Homo sapiens: one gene and its partner. The protein of the gene in region 1 interacts with the protein of each later gene in a pairwise test. Each region holds a gene or a part of one and is shown on either strand. Other genes may lie near its edges.

The links.
Region 2: the proteins of MRAP2 (region 1) and TMEM80 interact in binary tests that used the Homo sapiens proteins (3 or more experiments, as listed by UniProt).

The regions. Positions count from the first base shown.
Region 1 is NC_000006.12:84,025,290-84,042,931, reverse strand, and holds the start of MRAP2 (melanocortin-2 receptor accessory protein 2), read right to left. Parts: upstream 9,161-17,642; 5' UTR 9,049-9,160; intron 8,814-9,048; exon of another isoform or gene 8,700-8,813; intron 1-8,699. UniProt on the Homo sapiens protein: Modulator of melanocortin receptor 4 (MC4R), a receptor involved in energy homeostasis. Plays a central role in the control of energy homeostasis and body weight regulation by increasing ligand-sensitivity of MC4R and MC4R-mediated generation of cAMP.
Region 2 is NC_000011.10:696,286-705,484, forward strand, and holds the end of TMEM80 (transmembrane protein 80), read left to right. Parts: intron 1-2,583; coding exon 2,584-2,603; intron 2,604-3,856; coding exon 3,857-3,950; intron 3,951-4,329; coding exon 4,330-4,422; intron 4,423-6,659; coding exon 6,660-6,865; 3' UTR 6,866-7,389; coding exon of another isoform or gene 7,390-7,450; 3' UTR 7,451-7,514; coding exon of another isoform or gene 7,515-7,701; 3' UTR 7,702-7,844; downstream 7,845-9,199.

The DNA of each region.
Region 1 (17,642 bases):
GTACCAGGTATTTCCAGCTCTGTTCCACAGAAATGGAAATGTAAGTTAAAGCAGTGGTTTATTTAAGAGCTTGAGACACAGCAGTAGAAAAGCTGAACGTTCTAATGACCATCTTATCTTCTGAGGCCTGGGCTCTTAAACTAGGATGTGTGGCTCTTGTGGTTTCTCCACCTACTGCACCCACTGCAACCTCAGGACAATCAATTACAAGCAAACCAGAGTTTGGGGTGCAAGGGCAGTGCAGGCTCAAGGCACCCCATAGCCTCCTCATCTTTCAGGGAGGGGCCTGGCCAGAAAAGAGGGGCTTTATAAAGTGAGGGCAAGAATATAGTGTCCCTCAGCTTGCCAAGGTCTAAGGGTCCCAAATAGTCCCCAGAGTCTCAGGGCATACCTGGTTCATCTTCCTGGAGCATCAATAATACAAGACCTGGAGGATTATGTTTTATATTAAATAAGTGCAGATATGTTACAGAGTAAACTGTAAGAACCAAATAAATGTTTGCTCCTGCCACCTTTGGCCTCTGCTTCAGAATCCTAGAAATAAGGATTAACCCTCCTCTCCCATTGGGATAATTCAGTGGAAGTTTTTAGTCCATTCTCATACTGCTAATAAAGACATACCTGAGACTGGGTAATTTATAAAGAAAAGAGGTTTAATTGATTCACAGTTCAATATGGCTAAGAAGGCCTCAGGAAACTTACAGTCATGGTGGAAAGGGAAGCAAACACATCCTTCTTCACATGGCGGCAGCAAGAAGTGTGAGCAAAAGGGGGAAAGCCCCTTATAAAACCATCAGCTCTCATGAGAACTCACTCACTATCAGGAGAACAGCATGGGGATAACTGCCCCCATGATTCAATTACCTCCCACCAGGTCCCTCCCACAACACATGGGGATTATGAGCACTACAGTTCAAGATGAGACGGGTGGGGACACAAAACCTAACCATATCATTACACTCTTGGCCCCTCCCAAATCTCATATCCTCACATTTCAAAACACAATCATGCCTTCTCAACAGTTCCCCAAAGTCTTAACTCATTCCAGCATTAACTCAAAAGTCCAAGTCCAAAGTCTCACCTGAGACAAGGCAACTCCTGCCTATCAGTCTGTAAAATAAAAAACAAGTTAGTTACTTCCTAGATACAATGGGGGTACAGGCATTGGGTAAATACAACTGTTCCAAATGGGAGAAATTGGCCAAAACAAAGGGGCTACAGGCCCCATGCAAGTCTGAAATCCAATAAAGCAGTAATTAAATCTTAAAGCTCTGAAATAATCTCCTTTGGCTCTATATCTCACATTCAGGTCATGCTTATGCAAGAGGTGGGCTCCCATAGCCTTGGGCAGCTTCACCCCTGTGGCTTTGTAGGGTACAGCCCCCTCCTGGCGCCTTCACAGCTGGCATTGAGTGTCTGTGGCTTTTCCAGGTGCACGGGGCAAGCTATCAGTGGATCCACCATTCTGGCGACTGGAGGACAGTGGCCCTCTTCTCAGAACTCCACTAGGCAGTGCCCCACTGAAGACTGTGTGTGAGGGCTCTGACTCCACATTCCCTTTCTGCGTTGCCCTAACAGAGGTTCTCCATGAGGGCTCTGTCCCTGCAGCACACTTCTGGCTGGACATCCAGGCATTTCTATATATCCTCTGTAATCTAGGTGGAGGTTCCCAAACCTCAATTCTTGACCTCTGTTTACCCATAGGCTCAACACCAAATGGAAGCTGCCAAGGCTTGGGGCTTAAACCCTTTGAAACTACAGCCTGAGCTATACCTTGGCCCCTTTGTATGCCTTGGCCCCTTTTAGCCATGGCTGCAATGACTAGGATGCAGGGCACCAAGTCTCTAGACTGCACGCAGCAGGGGGGGCCTGAACCCAGCCCACAAAACCATTTTTTCTTCCTAGGCCTCCAGGCCATGGGTGGGAGGAGCTGCTACAAAGGTCTCCGACATGCCCTGGAGACATTTTCCCCTTTGTCTTGGCAATCAACATTTAGCTCCTTGTTACTTATGCAAATTTCTGCAGCTGGCTTGAATTTCTCCCAGAAAATGAGTTTTTCTTTTCTACCACATTGTCAGGTTGCAAATTTTCCAAAACTTTTATGCTCTGTCACCTCTTGAACACTTTGCTGCTTAGGAATTTCTTCTACCAGACACCCTAAATCATCTCTCTGATGATCCACAGATCTCTAGGGCAGGGTAAAATGTCACCAGTCTCTTTACTAAACCATAGCAAGAGTCACCTTTGCTCCAGTTACCAACAAATTCCTCATCTCTATCTGAGACCACCTCAGCCTGGACTTCATTGTCCATATCACTATCAGTATTTGGTCAAAGCCATTCAGCAAGTCTCTAGGAAGTTCCAAACTTTCCCACATTTTCCTGTCTTCTTCTGAGCCCTCTACATCTCCAGGAAATTCCAAACTTGCCCACATTTTCCTGTCTTCTTCTGAGCCTTCCAAACTGTTCCAACCTCTGCCCATTACCCAGTTCCAAAGTCGCTTCCACATTTTCTGGTATCTTTAATAGTAACTCCCCACTACCTCAGTACCAATTTATGGTGTTAGTCCATTCTCATGCTGCCAATAAAGACATACCTGAGACTGGGTAATTTACAAAGGAAAGAGGTTTAATTGACTCACAGCTCCGCAGGGCTAGGGAGGCCTCAGGAAACTTACAATCATGGCAGAAGGGGAAGCAAACACATCCTTCTTTACATAGCGGCAGCAAGGAGAAGTCAGAGTGAAGAGAGGGAAAGCCTCTTATGAAACCATCAGTCTCATGAAAACTCATGAAGGCAACCAACCCCCTGATTCAATTACCTCCCAGTGGGTCCCTCCCACGACACATGGGGATTATGGGAATTCAGTTCAAGATGAGATTTAGGCGGGGACACAGCCAAATCATATCACACTGGTAGGAATATGGTGTAGGTTTTATATTAGATAGTTGATCTTAAATTTGTTTCTTTCTCTCTCGTTTCTTTTTTTCCCCACAGAAGATAGAATTATATTTCCTGAAATAATCTATACAAAGGTTTGTAGAAAGACAGAAAACGTTTACAACCACATTCTCTCACTCAGCTCCTAATTTTTCTCTCTTGTTAAACCAGGCAACTTCAAAACTAATCCTTAAGAAGCCCCTCCCTCAGCCTGCTCTGCCTTCCAGTGATTGTTATTTTTGCTATTACCAAGAACATGCAAGAGGAAAACAAATGCACCTTGCAGGAGAATTATTTGAAGCTTACAAACTATTTTCACTTGAAGGGTTATGAAATTTTACTAACGTTCTCTAGTGAGGCAAAAATTACACAGGTCTTGATAACAGAAACACGAGCAACAATTAAACTCAGATTTTAACATATATAATTTTAGCATCTCATAAAGCTAGTCTCAACTTCTGCTTTTTTACTTCATATCTCAACAATACTATAAGGGACTGCAGAATCATGATTGCAAGGAAAATGCACAGTTTCCACCTCTCCAATAGGACTAAGCACTTCTCATACTCCAGTCAAGCAAAAAAATCACTTTGTACCCTGACATGAAGCAAAAATAACATGATCATCCTGCCTGAAAGTTGGTCTCCAAAATAAAACTTCAAACACATCTCATTCCCTTAAAGAAATAATTTTTTCCCTTGATTGTTTGCTATGCTGATGTCTGAAAACAAGTCACGACTTTTAGGAATAGATAATTGTGTAAGAAAGTTGTTTTTAGTCATGAACAACAGACTAATGTAAATGGAGAACTTTGGTAATTTGGTGGAATATTTTCTTTCAAGTATTTATTGTGATTTTATTTGATGAGCCAGTCTTATAAAGCCTGACTCCCTTGCACTCTGGGGAAGTAAACATTTTCTTTCCTTTTCTAACTGCTTCTGCCTCTAAGTCTTCCTTTGTCAAAAGTAAATGTAACAATAAACACAGATTGCTACTCTACTTAATTTTAACCCAAGCATATGTTACCTACTCTGAGCTAGCACAACTTGTGGGGCCTGCTCAAATGTCAACTGTATTTTGGTTTTCTATTGCGCCTCAAAATACACTCAAGGGATTCATCTTCCCTGCCCTCAAACAAATACTTGAGTAGATCCCATGATGTTTCTGCTCATGCAACAACTTCAAAGTCCCAAAAGAGGCCAGTCACAGTGGCTCACAATTGTAATCCTAGCACTTTGGGATGTGGAGGCAGGAGGATCACTTGAGCCCAGGAATGCAAGACCAGCCTGGGCAACATAGCAAAACCACGTCTCTACAAAAAAAGTTTTTTTAATTAGCTGGGCATGGTGTTCTGTGCCTGTAGTCCCAGCTACTTGAGAGACTGAGATGGGAGGATCACTTAAGCCCAAGAGGTTGAGGCTGCAGTGAGCTGTGATCATGCCACTGCACTCCAGCCTGGGCAACAGACAGAGTGAGACTTTGTCTCAAATGAATAAATAAATAAATAAGAAATATAAAAACCTAAAAGAATTAAAATGTCTAATCTTTGGAAACAAAAGAAACTCTGACCCATTATAACACAAATCTGCCCTATTTCTGCAATGTCCTGCTGCATGCTGGTCTCCTGCTGGGGTTGGGGGAAGGTAAACTTCTTTTCTATTTCTCCACCATCCACTCAACTGCTAGCTAGTTTCACATCACTCCAAGACCAAAGCAGGAGGAAAGGACTGAATTAACTATCTTCATACCTCACATGGGTGTGTTAGTAATACTCACCTTCCTTCAGCTGGCTGCTCATTCCTACTTCTGCTGCCAGGGGCCCTCGCCCTTAGGCCAGCCCTTCCTCCCATGTGGCCCCACCTGGCTCCCAGATCATCTTCAGACATCCTTTGCCCAACAAACTCTGGGAAGGTGAGTGATCCAGCCACCTAGGCCCCTGTGTGAGCCCCAAATGCAAGAAGCACATGGACAGCTCAACTCACCCTCAAATGGCCCCACTGAGAGGTGACAACATGCTAGCAGCCCTCGCTCACTCTCAGCACCTCCTCAGCAGTGTCTGCTCCGGCCATGCTTGAGGAGTCCTTCAGCACACCGCTGCACTGTGGGAGCCCCTCTCTGGGCTGGCCGAGGCTGGAGCTGGCTCCCTCTGCTTGCGGGGAGGTGTGGAGGGAGAGAGAGGGGCAGGAACCCGGGCTGGCCAGCGTGAGTTCTAGGTGGGCGCAGACTCAGTGGGCCCCACCAGCCCTGGGCAGTGAGGGGCTTAGCACCCAGGCCAGCAGCTGCAGAGGGGGCGCCAGGTCCCCCAGCACTGCCAGCCTGCCTGCGCCGCACTCAAATTCTCACCGGGCCTCAGCCGCCTCCCTGTGGGGCAGAGCTCAGGACCTGCAGCCCGCCATGCCAGAGCCCAGCCCCCCACCCCGTGGTGGGCTCCCGCACTGCCCGAGCCTCCCCAACGGGCGCCGCCCCCTGCTCCATGGCGCCTGGTCCCATCAACCGCCCAAGGGCTGAGGAGTGCAGGCTTGTGGCATGGGACTGGTGGGCAGCTCCGCCCATGGCCCTGGCGTGGGATCCACTAGGCAAAGCCAGCTGGGCTCCTGAATCAGGTGGGGACTTGGAGAACTTTTATGTCTAGTTGGAGGATTGTATATGCACCAATCAGCACTCTGTGTCTAGCTCGGGGTTCGTGGATGCACCAATCAGCACTCTGTATCTAGCTAATCTGGTGGGGACTTGGAGAACTTTTATGTCTAGCTAAAGGATTGTAAACACACCAGTCAGCACTCTGTGTCTAGCTCAAGGTTTGTAATCACACCAATCAACACTCTGTGTCTAGCTCAAGGTTTGTAAACGCAACAATCAGTGCTCTGTGTCTAGCTAATCTAGTGGGGACTTAGAGAACTTTTATGTCTAGCTGGAGGATTGTAAATACACCAATCAGCACTCTTTGTCTAGCTCGGGGTTCTTGGATGCACCAATCAGCCCTCTGTGTCTAGCTCAAGGTTTGTAAATGCACCAATCAGCACCCTGTGTCTAGCTCAAAGTTTGTAAATGCACCAATCAGTGCTCTGTGTCTAGTTAATCTAGTGGGGACTTGGAGAACTTTTTTGTCTAGCTGGAGGATTGTAAATACACCAATCAGCACTCTGTGTCTAGCTCAGGGATTGTAAATGCACTAATCAGCACCCTGTCAAAACGGACCAATCAGCTCTCTGTGAAACAGACCAATCAGTTCTCTGTAAAGTAGACCAATCAGCAGGATGTGGGTGGGGTCAGATAAAGGAATAAAAGCAGGCTACTGGAGCCAGCAGTGGTAAGGCGCTCAGGTCCCCTTCCACACTGTGGAAGCTTTGGTCTTTCCCTCTTTGCAATAAATCTTGCTGCTGCTCACTCTTTGGGTCTGCACTGCCTTTATGAGCTGTAACACTCACCGTGAAGGTCTGCAGCTTCACTCCTGAAGCCAGCGAGACCACAAACCCACCAGAAGGAAGAAACTCCAAACACGTCCGAACATCAGAAGGAGCAAACTCAGAACACACCATCTTTAAGAACTGTTAACACTCACCGCAAGGGTCCGTGGCTTCATTCTTGAAGTCAGTGAGACCAAGAACCCACCAATTTCAGATACACCATCACTAGCTTTGGGATGAAGGAAGTAAATCTATTCAACAAGGCCTCCTTGCTCAACCCTCATATTATTTTTCATTTTGTTTATTAAAACATTTCTTCATATTCCTTTGCATGATGAACCCTCATACTCTTGAAGTAACCAGTGGGTTCAAGAGTTATGGAGAGGTTCTCATATATCTACCTTGATATTTCATTTAGGAAAAAAAGCCAAAATGAGAAAAATTTAAAAAAAAAAAAAGACTAGACAGAAAATGACACAATGAGGCATTATCTGGTAATCTTCCAAATATCATAGCTTGGTATAATAATAGTTCCTTAAATATATTACACAAACATCATAAGAATATTGTTCTTCCAATATTTTTTGTACTCCAAGTAATGAAAACATTTCCCTTGAAAGCTAAAAAGGACAGATGTGATATTCTCTTTATACAATTTGAACTAATTTAATATGTTTGATAAAAGTTATCTATGAACTGTGACTATCAAAAAAGGTCACAGATAAATAATTCAGAGATGAATTCTGATTGGCAAAATACCTCAGCATCTGGGGGCCAACAGAAATGGGGAGGAGGAAGCGAACAGCTTTCCAGAATATGTTGATGACATAATCTGCAAGGTAAAAGAAGATGACCCCCACTGTGACCAGAATGGGGCTAGCTCAGAAGGCTGAAAGGGGGCAGCTAGCGATGGGTATGAACACTCACGCAGAGGCAGCAGGATCAGCAACACAGAACAGGACACATGCATCACCAGCGCGCGCTTCACAAAACAGTACTTTCCCTTGCTCCTGCAATGCACTCTGATATCTTATCTTTCTTTCTCTTGGCTTTCATGTTTTAAAAACTGCTATTTGCAACTCACTAAACTGATCATTAGCCTAATGAGTCACAGCCCACATTTGAAGACAATGGATACAGCATACCCTGATCTATATCCCAGTAGATTGCTAGAAAAGGGAAGGGAGTTGGTTTGGCGTAAGTATTTGTAAATGCTTCCCTAGGTAGTTTTGAGCTATCTTAAAGAATTTGTTCTAGAATGTTGCCAGGATTCAATGTTTCCCTCTTTTAAAAAGTCTCCTGGGTCCATTCTCATCTCTCATACCTGCACAAAGATGACTGTAACCGCTTTCACTACTCTAGGACGTCTGCCATTTGGGTTTTGAACAATCCAGTCCAGTTTCGGGCTTCGAGACCCTCTTTAAAGGGTTTAGGCTGGCCTCACTTTGAAAAGAAAGATACAGACTGGAAGCAACTCTTCCTTTTCCTATCACCTGTTAATATTATCTATTCTTCCATAAACACTGGATGATCTTCCTCATAAGAACGAAACTCCTTGTGGGTACCCCAGCTCACAGTGGCCTCTGGCTTTCCTGACCTTATCCTTGCAGGCCCTCGTCACTCTCCTGCACCTGTTCTTGTCTGTGTACCCCATGCAATGTACCTAAAGGAAACTAGACTCACAGTCCTAGCTTCCAGACCCCTACTCCCCACTATTACTTAACTGGGGCAGTCACCTTGGAAAACGTATTTAATATCGCAATCTAATTTTCTCTACCTGCAAACTGAAAATACTACTGTTTACTTTTGGGGTTTTCGTAAGAATTAATTTATGCATAAGAGTTCCCTTCTCTCGTCTCCCTGGACACATTCCCTCAAGCTTCCTTTGCCTTCAAAACACCAGAGTGTTTCACTGTTGTCAAACTAAATGCAGAGTAGTGGCTGAGATTCTGTGCCATCTAACATGCTGTGGAAACCACAACGCCTCCAAACAGGTTTCTGCAGAGACTACTCTTTGCCTTCCTCAATTAATTACACAGAAAGGATGGGAAAGGCACGGGGCACGGGGCGCGGGGCGGGCGGGGGGAGCGGGGGCGGGTTGCGGGGTGGGGCGGCGGGGAAAGTGTAAAACCCCTATTTCCCTCTAATCAGTAACACGACCTGCGAGCAGGCTCCCCAGTCCAAACAAAATGAATGAGCAACTGTCAAGCCAGGCATCATCTGAGAACCCTGCCCAGTGCATGGAGGCGCGCCCGGGGCCAGGAGCCAGCACATTTCCCCAGCCCAGGGGGGCTCTCTCAGTTGCAGGGCACCAAGGCGGCAGGAGGGCCGCAGCAAGGAAAGTTTTCTCACCAGCGGGAAAGGGTGTGCCTCGGCCGCTGGGGCCCAGCGGAGGGGAGGAAGCCCACCCAAGCCCCGAGCGCCGCCGCTTCCAGGCTTTTCGGACGCCCAGCGGCGTCCACACGCACATCAGCGGGCTGCCGGGAAGGTTTTAAACTTGGTGCTCTCCACGGGGTCCACACTCTTCCCGTGGGCGTCCTCACACCCCAATTCTCCTCCTCCCACCCCATTCTCTAGCCCCTCTAAACTAAAGACTGCCCCCAAACCCAAGCAAGCCCTGCCTTGACCAAAGCTGCACGCGCCCCGCACCCAGCGCCCGGGCTTTGCTCCGCCCTGGGCGCCCTGTCCCGCCCGTGGTTACCGGCTGGCTAGCCCCGGCCCGCGGGCTCGGCCCTGGTTCCGGCTCCTGGCTCCTCCGAGGTGCGCGAGCGCCGCCGCCGCCGCCGCCTCCCACCGCCCAGGGCCGGGCGAGTAGCTCCTAGATCCGAGGTGCGGCGGAGACGCGCGCTCCCGACCCGCAGCGGAGGCGGCGCGGGGCGCCGGAGCAGGGCTGCAGCGCGGGAGCCGCCTCCCCAGCGCGAGAGCCGCCTCCCCAGCGCGAGGCCGCCTTGGCCAAGAGGAGGTGAGCTTTGCAGATCCCTTTCCTGCTCACTTTGCCCCTCCGAGTCCGGGTCAGAGCCTGAGTCAGAGAATTCTTTGCCATCCCGGGCTCTGCAGTGGGTCCCTCGGGTCAACTTTGGGTAACAGGAGGAGCTCATTAGCTGAGCAAGAGGGAGTGGGGTATCATGAATCAAGGCTTATGAAAAATCGGCAGCATTGAGTTCAAGTTCAGTAAGGCCAGAGCCCCCCCATAATGTGCTGCTTAAATTACTACCTCGATTTTAGTTTCTCTTCCTGCCCACTGGTCCAGGTGTCAAAGGGCAGTCAGACGTTCAAACGGGGTCCCAAAGGGCTAGCACTGGGCCGGGAGTAGTTTCAGCATAGCAGGGCTGGCTCATCTCTTCCTCCCTTGAGTCCTTATTGCATGCCAGGCATTGATCTGGGAATACAGGTGCTTGGTGCTTGCATTCTACTAAAGAGACAGGCATAAACATAACAAATAACTAAAATACATAGTATGTGAGATAGTGATGAAGTGCGGTGGACAAAAAAGAAGGGAGGAAATGGGATAATGTTTGGAGGTAGGGGGTGCATTTTTAAATGGGATGGTCAAAGATGGCTTCACAGTGGAGTAAAGATCTAAAGGAGATGAGACAGAAAGAAGTCACGCTGGTATCTGGAGAGAAAGCACTTGCTGTGTGGCAGGCACTGAGATGTTCTTTACTGCACTAGTCATTTCTTTTACTACTCTCCATATGCCATATTAGACAGGTATTGCCACCATTTCCATTTTACTGATGAGAAACTGTAACTTAGGAAGGTTAAAGGAACTGCCCAAGGTCATATGCTAGTCAATAGAGGAGCTTGCCTTCAAGGTCAGGAAGCCTGGTGCCCCAGAACCATAGTTTAACCACCATTATACAGCAGCAGGGGAAATGCAGCACCCATGCAGGCTGGTGGCAGTGTGATGAACTCAAGCTGGTGGTGCCAAAAGAGGATTCCTGGAAATGACATCTCATCACTGATTTTTTTTTAAAAGCTCAGTTTCATTACCACTTGTAAAATGAAATATTTTGAACACCATTTTTCTTCTTCTTCTTTTTTTTAATTTTAAGTTCTGGGATACATGTGCAGAATGTACAGATTTGTTACATAGGTATACATGTGCCAGCGTGGTTTGCTGCATTTATCAACTTGTCATCTAGGTTTTAAGCCCCGCTTGCATTAGGTATTTGTCCTAATGCTCTTCCTCTCCTTGCCGCCCACCCCCGACAGGCCCCGGTGTATGATGTTCCCCTCCCTGTGTCCATGTGTTCTCACTGTTCAACTCCCACTTATGAGTGAGAACATGCTCATTTGGTTTTCTGTTCCTGTGTTAGTTTGCTGAGAATGGTGGTTTCCAGCTTCATCCATGTCCCTGCAAAGGACACAAACTCATCCTTTTTTATGGCTGCATAGTATTCTATGGTGTATGTGTGCCACATTTTCTTTATCCATTCTATCATTGATGGGCATTTGGAGTGAACAGGCAACCTACAGAATGGGAGAAAATTTTTGCAATCTATCCATCTGACAAAGGTCTAATATCCAGAATGTACAAGCAACTTAAACAAATTTACAAGAAGAAAACAACCCCATCAAAAAGTGGGCAAAGGATATGAACAGATACTTCTCAAAAGAAGACATTTATGCAGCCAACAAACATATGGAAAAAAGCTCATCATCACTGGTCATTAGAGAAAACCATCTTTATAGTGTGTGTATGTATCTTCTGCCTCATCCACAAGCAGTTTGATTCTAAATAACATAATTTGACAATCTGTGATAAGATTTATTAATCATTCCCCAAGTGTCCACACCAGTTCCAGTTGCTCATTCCTATTCACAGGGATGTGATTCCTCACCCCTGCAGTAGAGCCTCTGCCAAGTGTCTTCAGGGCATTGTGAAAAAGAGTGACAAAACTGCTGCTTCTGAGGGGCTACGGTGTGAACAGGCCAATTTCTGCCTTAGCTGTCGGCATCAGGTGGCCTTGTTCTGGGCAGAGCATCAATGGCTCCAGACAGAAAACCAGGGCACATTGTACTTTGTGAAAAAGGCAGGTCACTAACCCTTGGTTTCAGAAGCTGAAACTGCAGCATCTGGTGAAACAATGACATCAATAGGATGGCCAAGCCCACATTTCTCTCCTAGATATCTCCACCTCCTCATGGTTGCATTCATTCCTGTCTTCCTTCCTCCACTGTCAGCAAAAATCTTTTGACCTTTCCTTTGTAGGAAAGGTCTTTTCAAACACCACTTGTCCCAAAAAGCCTTCCTCATTGTCTCAGCTACAAACGAACTCTTAATCTAAAATCTGATACCTCTCTTATGGCACCTGACATTTCCTACTTTATTTTAAAATTTAGCCTATACTGTATACCTTAACTCCTCCATAGGCCAAATATTAATTTATATTTAATTTCTCCACAGGTCCTAGCATAATGTCTTCTACCCAGTAGACATTCAATGAGTATATTTTTACTGTTGTTCTTAATAAATTAATCTGCAAGAATACAGCTTCATTGTCTTTTAATTTTGTCTTTTCATTCCAAGATAACTCACAGAAATTTAGTGACAGGACTAAGTTATATGTAGCTATAGCTGTTGTTCATCAATATAAGTTGACAATGGTTTGTCTTGAGGTAAATTCCATTTGCCTTATTTCAAGATTAGAAAACAGAGGCTTTAGAGTAATCTCCCTTAGGTCACAATACTAGTCTTCAAGAGAGCCAGGATTTAAACCCAGCACCGTTTGGCTCCAAAATGAGCTCACCACAAGCTCATACTTCTCTTTCAGTCGTTCATTCAGGAATGCATTCATTTGATCTTTCAACAGATATTTGCAAACATTGACTGTGCTCAGCTCTGTCCTAGACACCAGGAAAATAGCAATGATTAAAACACAGTCCTTGTCCTCAAAATGCTCACAATCCTGTAGAAAGGACAAAGGTAAGGAAATAATAAAAACTTAGTATTATAAACCTTTTAGACTCATGGATGTCCTAGAGGAGCACTTGGTTTAACTTAGGTTATAGGAAGTAGGAGGTGACAGCATGGATTCTCTAAGAAGACAGAATGTAATTTTAATTTTGAAGTTTTTTACAATGCTAATGAAGGAAAGCATATGGTAGACAGAGGAAAGAGCGCTTGCAAAAACACGCGTGGAAGGATACAATGCATTCAGAGAATGGCTTTGCTGATTCAAGAGGGCTGCAGCATGGTGAAAGCAGAGTTGACATGAGGCTGGAAAGGTAAGCAGGGCCAAATCACAAGAGGTGCACAGAGTAGCTTTTATGAAGTTCATCACCCGCTTAATATATATAAAAATCATGGCTGTCTATGTATGTCAACTTTCCAGGGTAGAGAGAGGTTGTCTAACTTTAGTCAAATTCTCAAAAAGGCTGAATGACCCAGGGCTAGGAAGTGGGGGAAGTCACTTTCCTTTCCCACAGCCTTCCATAGGTCCATGGACTTCAGGAAATCCCAAGGAATTGCAACATCAACCAGGATATGCTGGATACCTGGATTGGGGTGGGTGCAAGGCTTGCCCCTGCCAAATCACCTCCAAACATGCAGTGGCACTGACATCCCGGGGCTAGGATGGCTTGACCCTGGTCCTCCCAGCACCTGTGCCCATGTGCCTTCTAAGTGTGGAAGGAAGGGGTTGCTGGGTGGCCAGAAGGCCAAGAGGCAGGGAGGCACCTGAGAATGTGTCCTGGGAAGGTGGCAGAAAGCAGGGCCACAGAGAGCCACGACTCTAAGCCCTAAGCGCGTGCTTCATTGCCTCATCTGACTTCAATTGCTGCGATGGGCTGAATGGTGTCCCCCAAAATTCATATGTCCTAAGCCTTGGTACCTCAGAATGTGACTGTATTTGGCGATCGGGCCTTGAAAAAGGTGATTAGGTTCAATGAGATCATATGGGTGGGCCCTACCCCAATCTGACTGTTGTTATAAGAAGAGTACACACAGAGAGACACCATGGGGCATATGGATACAGAAGGACTCCGATATGAAGAGGCAGCATGGGGGTGGCTATCTGCAAGGCAGGGAGAGAGGCCTGGAACAGAGCCTTTCCTGACAGCCCTCAGAGGAAGCCTACCCTGCTGGCACTTTGCTTTTGGCCTTCATTTCCAGAATTGCAAGAAAATACATTTCTATTGGTTAAGCCACCCAGTCTGTGGTACATGGTTATGGTGGCCTGAGCAGACTGATAGACTTACAGAATACCAATTCAAATTTCAAAGAAGTTTAAGAATTCCAAGATGGCGACCACAGAGCATTAAATCCCCAGGGAGGATTTAATGCTTAACCTTCTAAGCATGGTGTCCTGTGCCACTGCACCAGTCATACGCCCATGAAGCTAGGCCTTGGGAATTGGGAAATGGAGATCTGAAGACAACTTGGGGTTCATCAGTGAGGTGGTGTGATTAAAGCTGGCAGATGGGTGAGACTGCTTCTTGGAAACATAAAGTGAGAAGAGAAGAGGGCTGATGTCAGAAAGAGCAACTAGGGACATAGAGGTGGACAAGAAAAGGTGAAACCCAGTGGAGAAATGGGTAATAATGTCTAAGGCCCAAGGACATGTAATTAGGAACCAAACCCCATGGGCCCTAGCATGGAGGTCATGTGGTAGGCACTGGGACCAGGTTGCTGCTGGTTAAAGAATAGGGAGTGCAATTACAGGCTAGTCTTCTAAGCAGGCTTGGGAGGAAAGAGGAGACTGGGGCTGCTGAGGGCCCTTGTGCAGATTTATGGGAGACAGGAGGTCAGGAGGCCTAATATCCAGCCCACACCCAGTCACCAAAGCTAAATCAGCCTGCTGGAAGGGCCAGTGGAAGGCCTTCTAACCAAGACTCCAAATAGCCTAGGCCTGAATAACAAAGCTGTAGCTGGAGCTTTTCCTGTGGATATATATATATATATATTTTTTATCTGAATCCTCTCCCTAGATCCATGAGAGAAGCAACTGTTCTGCCTCCATGCAGCCCCCAGAACAGTGGCGCATAGTAGGCACAGGAAACAAATGTTGAATTAACCAATGGGAGACAGAGTCAAGGGAAAGGTTGTGCTTGTTTTGTTTTGTCTTTATTCATTTGTTTCAGATGAGAGACATAAACATGTTTCTAGATTGAGAACAAGGATCCCAAAGGAAGGGATAAGTTTAAGATAAGAGTTGAGAAAGGAAATAATTGATGAATAAGATAATAAAGAGTAAGAGAATAAATCAAGAGAACTTCTGGAGGGGAAAAAAAAAACCTGAATTATCCTTCAGGAAATTTAATCATTTAGTCATTCATTGATGAGTATCTCGCATTGTCCTGGGCCCTTCTGGGGTTGGGGAACTGAAGGGTTGGAGGGTCAGGGTGGATACAAAAGAAAACCTAAAATATATTCCCTTTCATTTGTTCAAGGTGACACCATCTAGTTAAGAAGTATTTTATGGAAAAAAATACACAGCAATGAAACACAGCAAGAATGTTCCCAGACGTCTGAGTAATAAAGAAAGATTTGAAAACAGAGTGAACTAAGAAAATGCCCGGAGGCATTACAGCAGAGGTGGAGAGCAGATAGGGAAAAGGAAGTAGAGAGAAAATAAGGGAACATGAGCTCTGGCATGGTTTCTTGGCAATGGGCTGGCTGGCAGCTGGCAGCATCAGGAAAACAGGGGCTCAGTGTTGACTCAAGACCTGGGAAGCTCCATTTATTTTCCAGTTGATTAGGACCAATGCCAGCAGTCAGGCTCAGCAGGAAGCAGTAAAATCAAGACTTGTCTCAGAGAAGGACACATCCCTGATAGTTAATGTGTCTGGGCATGGAAAACCTGGCTTTTTTATAATGAGTCCAACAACAAGGCAGGACCAACTGAAGAAAGTGATGAGAAAGAAAAATTGACATTGTTTTCAGAAGTTAAAGTACATACTATGACACAGTTACCTCTCTAACTTGTTTCCTTTAGAGACGAGGATAATCTATCATCCAGTCAAATCAAAGGCAAAACCTCACACACAAAGGAACCCAGGAATTCTACTAGCTAAAGCCAACCCAGGGAGCAGCAAGTACAACTCATATCAAGGATACAGTTTCCTCCTTTTCCTCAATTAAGTTTCAGAAAGTAAATAGGAGGAGTGAGTGTTCAGAAGCCCCAAGGCTTGCAAGATGTGAGGAGTGCATGCTGCAAATGGTCACGTTCTCATCGTGAATTGCTCCCATCTCATTAATGGCAACAATTCTCTGCCCATTTCTTTCTTAGGTGATTTGAGGGTTTATTGAGTATTATAAACTTTCTTACTCTTTGGCATAAATTGGATTTCATTTGCTTTGTCTTGGTTTTATACTGTTGCTCTTTTCAAATCAGCACAATTATTCCTGAATATATGTGCACTGCTTTCACTTGCCAATCATTCCTTTTTATTCCAGGGAACACATGCCAGGGCACCGCACACCTCTGCAGGCTCATACATACAGGACCTCAGCCCCTACTTCCTGGTAATATTCATTTTTTCTTTCCCTTCCAATGTTTAATCATTTACTTGAAGCTTCCCGCTTGCTGCTAATCCTATTGTTTTGTTCCTCCAGTAGAACTGCACAGACTTCCACCCACATAACGTGGCACTAGGCAGACAAAACATCTGATATATTTTAGTTCATGCTTGGCATTCAATCAAGAAGACGAAGCTGTGAGCCATGCTGAAATGCCAACTAAAATTCATTTTGCACTACCAGAAAGAGAGAGAGATGGCACACCGAGGAGAAACTGTAGCCTCATGGCGATCATGTGTAGCCCTAGGCTCTAACACTAGCAAATTTCTTTCCCTCAAAATTGAATTGGTGCATTTTGAAGTGAAATCCTGATGGCTTCTTGTTTACTATCACACAATAATGAGGAAGCTTCAGTTTATTGGCACGGAGCTCAGCCACTCTCAGACAGCAAATGGAAAAGAGAGACTAACTTGTCCTGGTGCTTTGCTCCTTGTTATTCCTTTAATTGTGTCACAGCCAATACAACGCATGATGGAATTATTCCGAAATAGAGAAACACGTTGAGCCTAGACATTGACTGTTACAGCGGTGTGGGTGGAGTCCACACATACTCATGCCCCCTCTCTTTCCCACATGCCTGCACACCTGTCTATTCAGTGAGGGGAAGATGAGGTCTTGCAGCCCTGGGTGGCTTCATCTGCCCATGAGGGTCACTTTTCTCTTCTTGGTTCTTTTACCTCAAAGATATTCTGTGATCACTATGTGCTGAAAGCATTCAGCATTCTTCTGCCTCTGCTCAAATTATCACTAGTACTGTTCTTAACATTTCTGGTCCCACCAAAATTCATGCCCATTTTGTAGAAACTGACCCAATGTGAGGATGATGAATAATAAAAAGGAGGTGTGTGTGTGCGTGCGTGTGTGGGTGTGTGCATGTGCGTGTGTGTGTGTATCTGGGTATGTGTGTCTGTGTATAAAATCTCAGAAAGAAATGTTGAAATAAATATGAAACATTTAAATTTTTTATTATTTTAAAGGTAATATCAGCACTTTTTGGAAAACAAAATAGAAGAAAAAGTCATCTATAACTTCACTACTGTAAAACCACCAATGATAGCATTTTGTACTTTTATTTTTAAATTTTTTTATTTTTAATTTTTATGGATACATAATAGTTGTAAATATTTATGGGGTACATGTGATATTTGGTACCAGTGTGTCAATATGTAATGATCAAACAGGGTAATTGGGATATCCATCACCTAAAGCATTTAACATTTCTTTGTGTTAGGAATATTCTAATTCTACTTTTTAGTTATTTTGAAATATACAATAAGCTATTGTAAACTATAGTTGCCCTATTGGGTTACTGAGCACTAGATCTTATTTTTTTTTTTTTAATCTAACTGTATTTTTGTGCCCATTAACCAACTCCTCTTTATCCTCTCTCCCTACTACCCTTCCCAGTGTCTGGTAATCATCATTCTGCTTTCTATCTCCATGAGTTCAATTTTTTTTTTAGCTCCTATATATGAGTGAGAGAATGAGATATTTGTCTTTCTATATCAGGCTTATTTTACTTAACATATTGCATTTACTTTAAGACTGTTGTAAAACATGGCTGTTTACATAGCAACCATATGGTGTATTAGTCCATTCTTAAACTGCTGTAAAGACATACCTGAGACTGGGTAATGTGTAAAGAAAAGAGGTTTAATCAGCTCATGGTTCTGTGGTCTGTACAGGCTTCTGTTTCTGGGGAAGCCTCAGGAAACTTACAATCATGGTAGAAGGTGAAAAGGAAGTAAGCACATCTTCATATGGCCAGCAGG
Region 2 (9,199 bases), on another chromosome or scaffold:
CGGCCATCCTGCAGAGGAGCCGCCTTCTGCTGTCTGTGGGTACAGCCAGAACTCCCATACGCGGGCGCTGAAGTGCCAAACCTTCGTGCGTGTTCTCTAGTAATTAGGTGCATTGTTTTGAAGGAATAAAGAATGGCTACTCCATAGGCAGGACAGCCTCTAGTAACCAGGTTTGTTTTGTGTATTTTCATTTGGTTAAAAATTAAGTTTAGGTTGGGCGCAGTGGCTCAGGCCTGTAAGCCTGACAGTTTGGGAAGCCGAGGCTGCAGGATCATTTGAGGCCAGCCTGGGCAACATAGCAAGACCCCCTCTATAAAAAAAAAACTGTAAACATCAGCCAGGCGGTGGCGCACCCCTGTGGGCCAAGCTATTCTGGAGGCTGAGGCTGGCGGATCACTTGAGCCCAGGAGGTCGAGGTTGCAGTGAGCCGTGATGGCGCCACTGCACTCCAGCCTGGGCGACAGAGCGAGACCCCCTTCTACAAAAAAAAAATTAAAAATTACCCCGGGGAAGGCCAGGCGCAGTAGCTCACGCCTGTAATCCCAGCACTTTGGGAGGCCAAAGCGGGCGGATCACCTGAGGTCGAGGGTTCAAGACCAGCCTGACCAACATGGAGAAACCCCGTCTCTACTAAAAATACAAAATTAGCCTGGCGTGATGGTGCATGCCTGTAATCCCAGCTACTTGAGAGTCTGAGGCAGGAGAATTGCTCGAACCCGGTGGTGGTGGTGGGGGGGGTGGGGTGCGGAGGTTGCAGTTGGCCAAGATCGCACCATTGCACTGCAGCCTGGGCAACAAGAGCGAAATTCTGTCTCAAAAAAAAAAAAAATTACCTCAGGGAGCCTGTGGTCCCAGCTACGTGGGAGGCTGAGGCTGGCGGATCACTGGAGCCCAGGAGGTTGAGACTGCAGTGAGCTGTGATCAGGCCACTGCACTCCAGCCTGGGCAACAGAGCAAAACCCTGTCTCTAAAAAAACTAAGTGTATACCAAAACAAGATTTCTTAACACATCTTGTCCATTACATCAGGGAAAACACTTGTTCTCTTTCACTTCCATGTTTAACTTCTGCCTGACACAGCTATTCGTAGCCACATTGTGATTATAGTAAGTCACTGACAAAAAATGTTGTCCTGAAAGCCAAGGCTACGTTCGGTCAGAATGAGCTCCTGCAGGTCTGGAATTGTTAGAACAGCGTATCTGGTTATAGCCGCCCTTCATATTAATTATTAAAATGTTACATCACTTAAGGCTTTTATACAGTTTTTCCCCCAAGCCCCATAACTTCAATCTATAACAGTGAGCAACTAGCAGACACATTGGAAGTGTTTAAGAAGCCAGCCTTTAAGAAAAGGAACAGAAGGGACAAAAACCCCAATTAATGCGAAATCATCACAGATAATGACAGGTATTTAGGTGGCCTGGTTTAGCTAAGGCCTGGAAAAGAACAGATCGGGTTTAAAGAGTGGCCTGCCGGGAACGCGATGCGGCGTGGTCTGCCGTGCACTTGGCTTCCTGCTTCCATCCTGTGGTGCCTCTTCCAGGAGCCCAGTTCTGAGTCTCTGATGCCGATGTCCTGTATTTACTGGCTTAAAACTCTTGCCTGTGTGAGATTCCACAAACTCTGGCACAGAAGGCCCCAGATCTGCCCAAGAAGCTGTGGGATCAGCCACAAAATCTCACCAACGCCAGGTTTCTGTCCTGCCCTCCCTGGCGCTGAAGGGGAAATAGAACAGAGGCTGTGTTCAGGTTGCTGTCCTGCCTGCCGCCCAGCGGTGCAGCTTGAGCCTCCTTTTATGAGAGGTTTCCACCCAATTCTAGATGTGTATTGAGGTATCTACACATGGAGGGACGTGCACATATCACACGTGCAACTGGCCTGAGCCCTTTTCAGACAATTAGTCCGCTCCAGGTCAGCGTGGATCCAGGGTGAGTCAGAGGCGTCTTCAGATGCAAAACCTCAGAATCAAAAAGGAGGAAAGAGACTCCACTCACTCCTCGGGCTTCCTGTCATCTCTCAGGTGGGGGTGGGAGAAGGCCCAAGAGGTTGCATGATAAAAAGACTGGACAGCTGCATTGCTGGTTTGGAAAATCCTTATTTTTGGAGGGATATTTGGGGATAAAATTTCAGAGGAAAGCAAATGTCTCATCAATCATGAAAAAAGATTTGTTACAACCTAAGTCAGAAAAGGTTTTCATCTAGTCATATATGTGTGGCAAATACGGAGAAGCCACAGACGGTGAGCCACAGACAATGAGAGCAGCTGTTGGGGTGGGCTCCAGGGTGCTGCTTTCCCTGAGGGCCAGCTGGGTCTGGCCCAGGTTCACTTCCCACCCCGGTGCCCCCGGTACTCGCTGTCTCCAGCCTCAGGTTCTGAAAGGCAGAGACTCCTAGCCTCATTGAAGGATGGTTAGAGAGGCACGGGAGCTATCTAGTGGCAGGCCCACGGTATATGTTTGCTGCTTTCTACAAATACGAGATCAAAGGAAAATAAAGCAGGGGTGGTTCCTGTCAGTGTGGAGCGAGACCCGGGAAAGCATCCTGGTGGCTGTCAGGCCTTGCTCACGGCCCCTTTCTCTTTCAGGGAGAGGATCCTCCACAGTGGTATCCTGCTGCGTGCCCCTCCAGGACAGCACCCAGAGGCCCGAATTGCTGCTGCACAGAGAGCACTCGGCCTCACCCCACGTTTTCCCTAAGTTCTGTCTAGTAATTCCACTTTGGAGAGGGGGGTGTTCCTTGACAGATTTAGAGAGTTGATGTAACTTCCTCGGATCAGTTCTGCTGGCTCCATCCCCTACCTGCTCAGCCCTGCACAAAGTGGCTAAGCACGCCACACTGCCGGCTCCCAAGGCGATGGCCACCTGCCTCTGTCTCGGCCGCTAGTGGCAGGAAGATGGAAATCCCTCACTTTGTCCCTAGATTCATTTTATTTTATTTTTGTTTGTTTATGTTTTTTTAAGGACAGAGCCTTCCTCTCACCCAGGCTGGAGTGTGGCAATCACAGCTCACTGCAGCCTCAGCCTCCTGAAGCTCTGGCATCAGGCGGGAGCCACTGTGCCTGGCCCCATAGACTCATGTTAGCATAAACAAATAGGAAATGTACACAGCTCAGGAAATGGCTACTAGATACTTAAGTCCCCCAAACAGAAATATATTTCCTCTGAAGAAACTGAAAAAAGTGGCCGGGCGCAGTGGCTCATGCCTGTAATCCCAACACTCTGGGAGGCTGAGGTGGACAGATCACTTGACACCAGGAGTTTCAGACCAGCCTGGCCAACATGGTGAAACCCTGTCCCTACTAAAAATACAAAAAATTAGCTGGGCATGGTTTTGCACGCCTGTAATCCCAGCTACTCAGGAGGCTGAGGCAGAAGAATCACTTGAACCCAGGAGGCGGAGGTTGCAGTGAGCCAAGATTGTGCCACTGCACAGTGTCCAGTCTGGGCAACAGAGCAAGACTCTATCTCAAAAAAAAAAAGAAAATGACAAAGTTATTTTTTCTCTCTTAACTCATAACTGGGGCCAAAGGCAGGGTGACATCACTGGGGATGCCAGTGTGTGGAGGCTGTCCCCTGACCAGTCCTGTCCACAGTCAGGAGGGCAGGGGCTGCAGTGCACAGACCGCATTGTTGTGGCATGGAGGGGGGTCCCACAAAGGCCTTGTCAGCTCATGGGACCACATTGGCAGCCAGCATAGTGACAGAAGCCTCAGATAGGCAGTGAGCCATTGCCAAGACTCCATGGTCCCTTGGTGTCTGTGGCCACCAAACAGATGACAGAACCAGCCCCTCTTGTTCAGCCACCTGGGAGGCTGCTCCCAAGCCTGTTGAGCTTGAGGATCCTTAACCACTCACCAGCTCTCTTCAGTTCCCCTTCAAATGCTGTTTTATCTCAGCGGAACGTACTACGCCCTGTATTTCCTCGCCACGCTCCTGATGATCACGTATAAAAGTAAGTCAGGGACGGGCACAGTGGCTCACGCCTGTAATCCCAACATTTTGGGAGGCTGAGGTGGGCGGATCACTTGAGGTCAGGAGTTTGAGACCAGCCAGGCCAACATGGGGAAACCCCATCTCTACTAAAAACACAAAAAGTAGCCGGGCGTGGTGGTGGGCGCCTGTAGTCCCAGCTACTCGGGAGACTGAGGTGGGAGGATTGCTTGAACCCGGGAGGTGGAGGTTCCAGTGAGCCAAGATTGCGCCACTGAACTCCATCCTGGGTGACAGAGCAAGACCCTGTCTCAAAAAAAAAAAAAAGGAAAAGGCAAGCTGAGGTGGCTGCTGCTGCTGTGCCAGGTTACTTATGTTCCGTCCGCGCCTCTGCTCTTCAGGTCAGGTGTTCAGCTATCCTCACCGCTACCTGGTCCTCGATCTTGCTCTGCTGTTTCTGATGGGGATTCTAGAAGCAGTTCGGTTATACCTGGGTGAGTGGACTGTTAACACCGTGAAGAACCTGTCCTAAGAGTTGCTATCTGTTTCCACAGCCTTTCAAGAGTAATTATTTTATAGTGTGGTTCTCAGAGACATTTTTTATCCAAACTGCTTACCCAGTTGCTTTGCAGGCTCACCTTACAGTGTCATTAAGTATTAATCAAGAAGTTTTGTCCCAGAGACAAATAACACTGGGGGCATCGTTGGGAGAGACTCTGTGTTTGGAAGCATGTCTTGTAGAAGCCACTGGGTAATGGCACTGAGATCAGAAAAGCCCAGCCCACCACCACATCTGGAGCTCCGGAATATTCACCAGCACCCCTTTCCTTCCCCTTGCCCTTAGCTGTCTGAGGAGAGAGCCCTGGAGAGTTCTGCCAGGTCCCAAAAGGCAGCAGAGTCTGGAGGGGTGGGAGCCCCCAGCCTCCCCACTCCAGCTCTAGGGATCCCCAAGTCTGCAACCCCTTCCAGTGACCTACTTTTTTTGAGACGAGGTCTCACTCTGTTGCCCAGGCTGGAGTGCAGTGGTGCAGTCACAGCTCACTGCAGCCTTGACCTCCTGGGCTTGAGCGATCCTCCTGCCTCAGCCCTCCCCTCCTCCCAAGTAGCTGGGATTACAGGCACCTGCCACCACGCCCAGCTAATTTTGTTTTGTTTTGTTTTGTTTTTTTTTGGTAGAGACGAGACAAGGTTTCTTTTTTTTTTTTTTTTTTTTTTGAGACAGAGTCTCGCTCTGTCGCCCAGGCTGGAGTGCAGTGGCGTGAACTTGGCTCACTGCAAGCTCCGCCTCCCGGGTTCACGCCAGTCTCCTGTCTCAGCCTCCCGAGTAACTGGGACTACAGGTGCCCGCCACCACGCCCGGCTCATTTTTGTATTTTTAGTAGAGATGGGGTTTCACCATGTTAGCCAGGATGGTTTCCATCTCCTGACCTCCTGATCCGCCCACCTCGGCCTCCCAAAGTGCTGGGATTACAGGCGTGAGCCACCGCGCCCGGCCGGAGACAGGGTTTCGCTATGTTACCCTGGTTGGTCTTGAACTCTTGGGCTCAAGCAATCTGCCCACCTTGGCCTCCCAAAGTGCCTGGCCTCACTCCCCTTTTTTTAACCACACAATTTGTTCAAGGGTATGTTCTTGTACAAGATTCAAGGGGTGCAGAAGTAAAACATGGAAATTCGCCCTCCCCAGAGCTCACCTCTGTGGCCAGCGGGGTGCAGACTTCCAGCCCTCTGCGTGCTCATGGTCGTAACATGTGCACCTAAACACACGTGTTTGTGAAACATTGTCCTGCCGTGGGGAACGCAATGGGCACTTCCAGGGCGCTGTGCCCCTGCCAGGCTGGAATCTTGGGCCCCTCTTGTTCACATACAGATACACCCCTGATGCCTGATGTCCAGTGAGGAACCAAGGCTGCGGGGAAGGGTGGCCCCCACCCTTCCTCTTGTTATCAGGCCTCAGACACACTAGGAGGATGGAGGCGAGTTCTCTCAGCTGCCCATCCCACTGAGGGGTGCCCGGCCGTCAGTGTCTTGTCTGCACTTACGTCCCAGAACCTCTAGAGCTTGCCCCCCAGGGCGGGCACTGCTGGGAGGGTGCGAGCACCGCTGCGGCACAGAGGCCCGGTTCTTGGCTGATCTTCTGGGGCCTGGGCCTGCCCTGAGGTGGTGGGGACAGGGTGTGGCCTGGCCCTGCTGGGGGCTGCTAGGCCAACGGGACCCTCCCCAAGCGCGCCGCACACTGCAGGGTCTCCAGGCACCTGGGCTCAGCTAGTGACTGACCCATTTGTTTGCTAAATACGCAGTTTTGTTTTTAATACATACTCGTGAAATTTTCCAGAACTGGCCTTGGACCAGAGAAAAATACTTTGGGAATTTTTCAAAAAAATCCCTTCAGTTCCACTTGGAATTAGGAAAACGTGGCAGATGCACTTGAATCATTTTAGAAACCAAATTCACCCCCGCCCACACAGCCGACCCAGAAGACCCAGAGACAGATCAAACCATGCTGTTGCAGGGGCACCTCCCCCAGGAGGGGCTCACGCCTGTGTTGCCCATGCTCTCTGGCTCTCCTGAGTTCTGGGTGGCCATGGAGGCTGTTTCCCTGGAATTCCCCAGGCCCCGGAGGAACGTAGGGCAAGGAGCTGCTCTGGTCCCAGCAGCCCTCCAGGCACCTGTGGGCGGTGGGCTCCAGGGAGCGCCTCGCACCACCTTCCCTCCCCTTTGCTCTGTTCTCCAGGCACCAGGGGCAACCTGACAGAGGCTGAGAGGCCGCTGGCCGCCAGCCTGGCCCTCACGGCTGGCACCGCCCTCCTCTCTGCCCACTTCCTGCTTTGGCAGGCCCTAGTGTTGTGGGCGGACTGGGCCCTCAGCGCCACGCTCCTGGCCCTTCACGGCCTGGAGGCCGTCCTGCAGGTGGTTGCCATCGCGGCCTTCACCAGGTAGCTACGGACACCCGGGATACCCCACACTGGGGCCCTCCTCCTGGGCCTGACCAGTCCCCCAGCTGTCACCTCCCCATTCCTGGACAGGAAGGGCACTTTTCCTAGTGACTGGCCATAGATGGTTTTGGATGGTTCCATCTGTTCTGGCAGGAGTGGGAGCAGGAGCCAGGGCAGAACAAACTGCTGGAGGCCCTGGTGTTGGGAACAGCTGCGGGGAGGGTAGGGACCAGACAGAACTGCCTTCAAGATGAGTCCCAGGAGCGCACACTCAGCCCTGTCAGTGGGGTCTGGCTTTAGCAGCCAGGCCTCCACAGACCCCCATGGGCCCCCAGGGCCGAGAGGGAGGACAGAGCCCTTCAGAACAGAGGCCTCATCTCACTGCATCCCCCATCACCCCCTAGTTCCCCAATGGTCCTAATTTGTGTTCTGAGATCCCAGTTTACTCCGTGGCCAGGCCCCACCTGTGTTTCCAAGTCGGGCTGGAGACGCAGGATGGGGTAGGCCTTGTGCTCTGAGCAACCCCAGCTCTGCCTCACAGGCAGGCAGGCCCGGTGCAAGAGTGGACTCTGGGTTCCTAAAGCAATAAATGCAAACAAGCCAACAGCTCTGCTGCCTAGCAATTTCCATCTTAGCCACACTTCTCCCTTCAGGGGCTTCGGAGGAGAGGTCAGGGCTAAGGCCGGGGATGAGACTGCAGGAGAGAGAGCAGCGGAGGGCCACATTCGGAGCCTCCGTCCACTCCAGTTTTATCAGCTTTTGCCTTTTGCACGGAGTGCTAAACAAATTCTAGCTCTGTGTTTTTTTCCCATTCCCAGATTTACTATCAGTTCTCCTTAAAAAGTATCTAAGCTGTTACAGTAGCTTTCCCTTCACTTGATTCTATTGTGTGTTTTCTATGTTTGGAATAATTACACCCAAATATCTAGATATTTTCTCTTCACCGCATTTTGTAAATAAAGAGATGTGTATGCCTCCCTGAATTCTCCTAATTATGGCCACCTCCCCCACCCCATCTCCAGTTCTCCTGCCCTGCAAGAGAGCACACCCCACTTGCCAGCTGGTCAGTTCCTGGCTGGCCTCGCCCTCGGGCCCTGGCTGCCGGGCGCCTTCCGCTCGGTGGACTCCTGAGGGCAGGAGGCTGCGGGACTGTCCTGGGCCTCCACTGGGGCTCCCTCGGCTGGGGTGGCTGTGGCTGTGGCACCTGGACAGTCTTTCCTGCCTGTCTTCGTGGAAGCGGTGGGAGCACCCAGTTGTCCTGGGCCGACTTCCTTTGACCTGTCTGTGGCCCCCAGTGGCCACGGTGAGCTGCAGGACAGCCCTGAGGACCCACTTCACACACCAGCGCCTGAGCGCCTCGGGCCACCTCCCTCACCAGCGCCTGCACTCGCAGAAGACCAGCTGGGCACACCTGCCATCTGGAGGACCCAGCCCACAAACCATGCAGACCAGGGAAGGACCCCCTCCCTGAAGCTGGAGACCTGTTGCCTTCATGGTTAATGGATCCTGATACCTCCAGTCTCAGCGAGCACACAAAGGCAGTGGTCACCTGTTCCACAGGGAACGCCATGGCTCCAGGTGACCCGGAGTGGATGGGGCCCGAGAGGCCAGCCTGGACTGTCTCCTGAGGGCAGGCTCCGCACTCAAAATCGTGTTGACAGGCACCCGTTTAGGAGTGGAGAGGGACCCCACCCCCCAGCTGTCCTCTCCAGCGCCTGTTTCCCACTTGGCCACTCCCAGCTCTGCCTCCAGGAAGGGTGAGGGCACGGGTGCACCGAGGGGTTGGCGTGTGTGACCCTGAGCTCTGGGTCAGGGCAAGCTCATGCATGGAGCAGGATCACGGCAGGTTCCTGGAGATCAAACGGCAAAGGCTGTAAACCAGGAAGCCAGGTCTTGCCTGGGCTCAGGGGCAGGCACTGGGCCCGAAGGAGGAGGGCCACTTCCTGCCAGCCCTCCACCGAGCTCACCTATGGCGCCTCCCCAGGAAGTGCTCCGGCCAGCCCAGGGTAAACACGCTAGCCCTGCCCCTCTGGGACCATAGCCCGGGGACCCAGACTCTTGGCCACGCTCATTCCCACCCCTACCCAGGACCGGCAGCCGGAGCCTTGGGTCCCTGCATGGGCCTGGGGCGCCCTGTGCCCCTTCACCTCGTCCTCGTCCAGTTGACTGCTGTGGCAGCCGGTGCTACCCGCTGTGTCCACTGCACCCTGGCCCTGTTCTGAGCGGTCACAGCAGCTGGGGAGAAGGGCCATCCTGGAAGCCGGGCAGATGAGGACGGAACCAGACAGTCCCACTGTGGTGGGCAGAGGTGGGGCCTGGGCCTGACCACGGGGCAGTG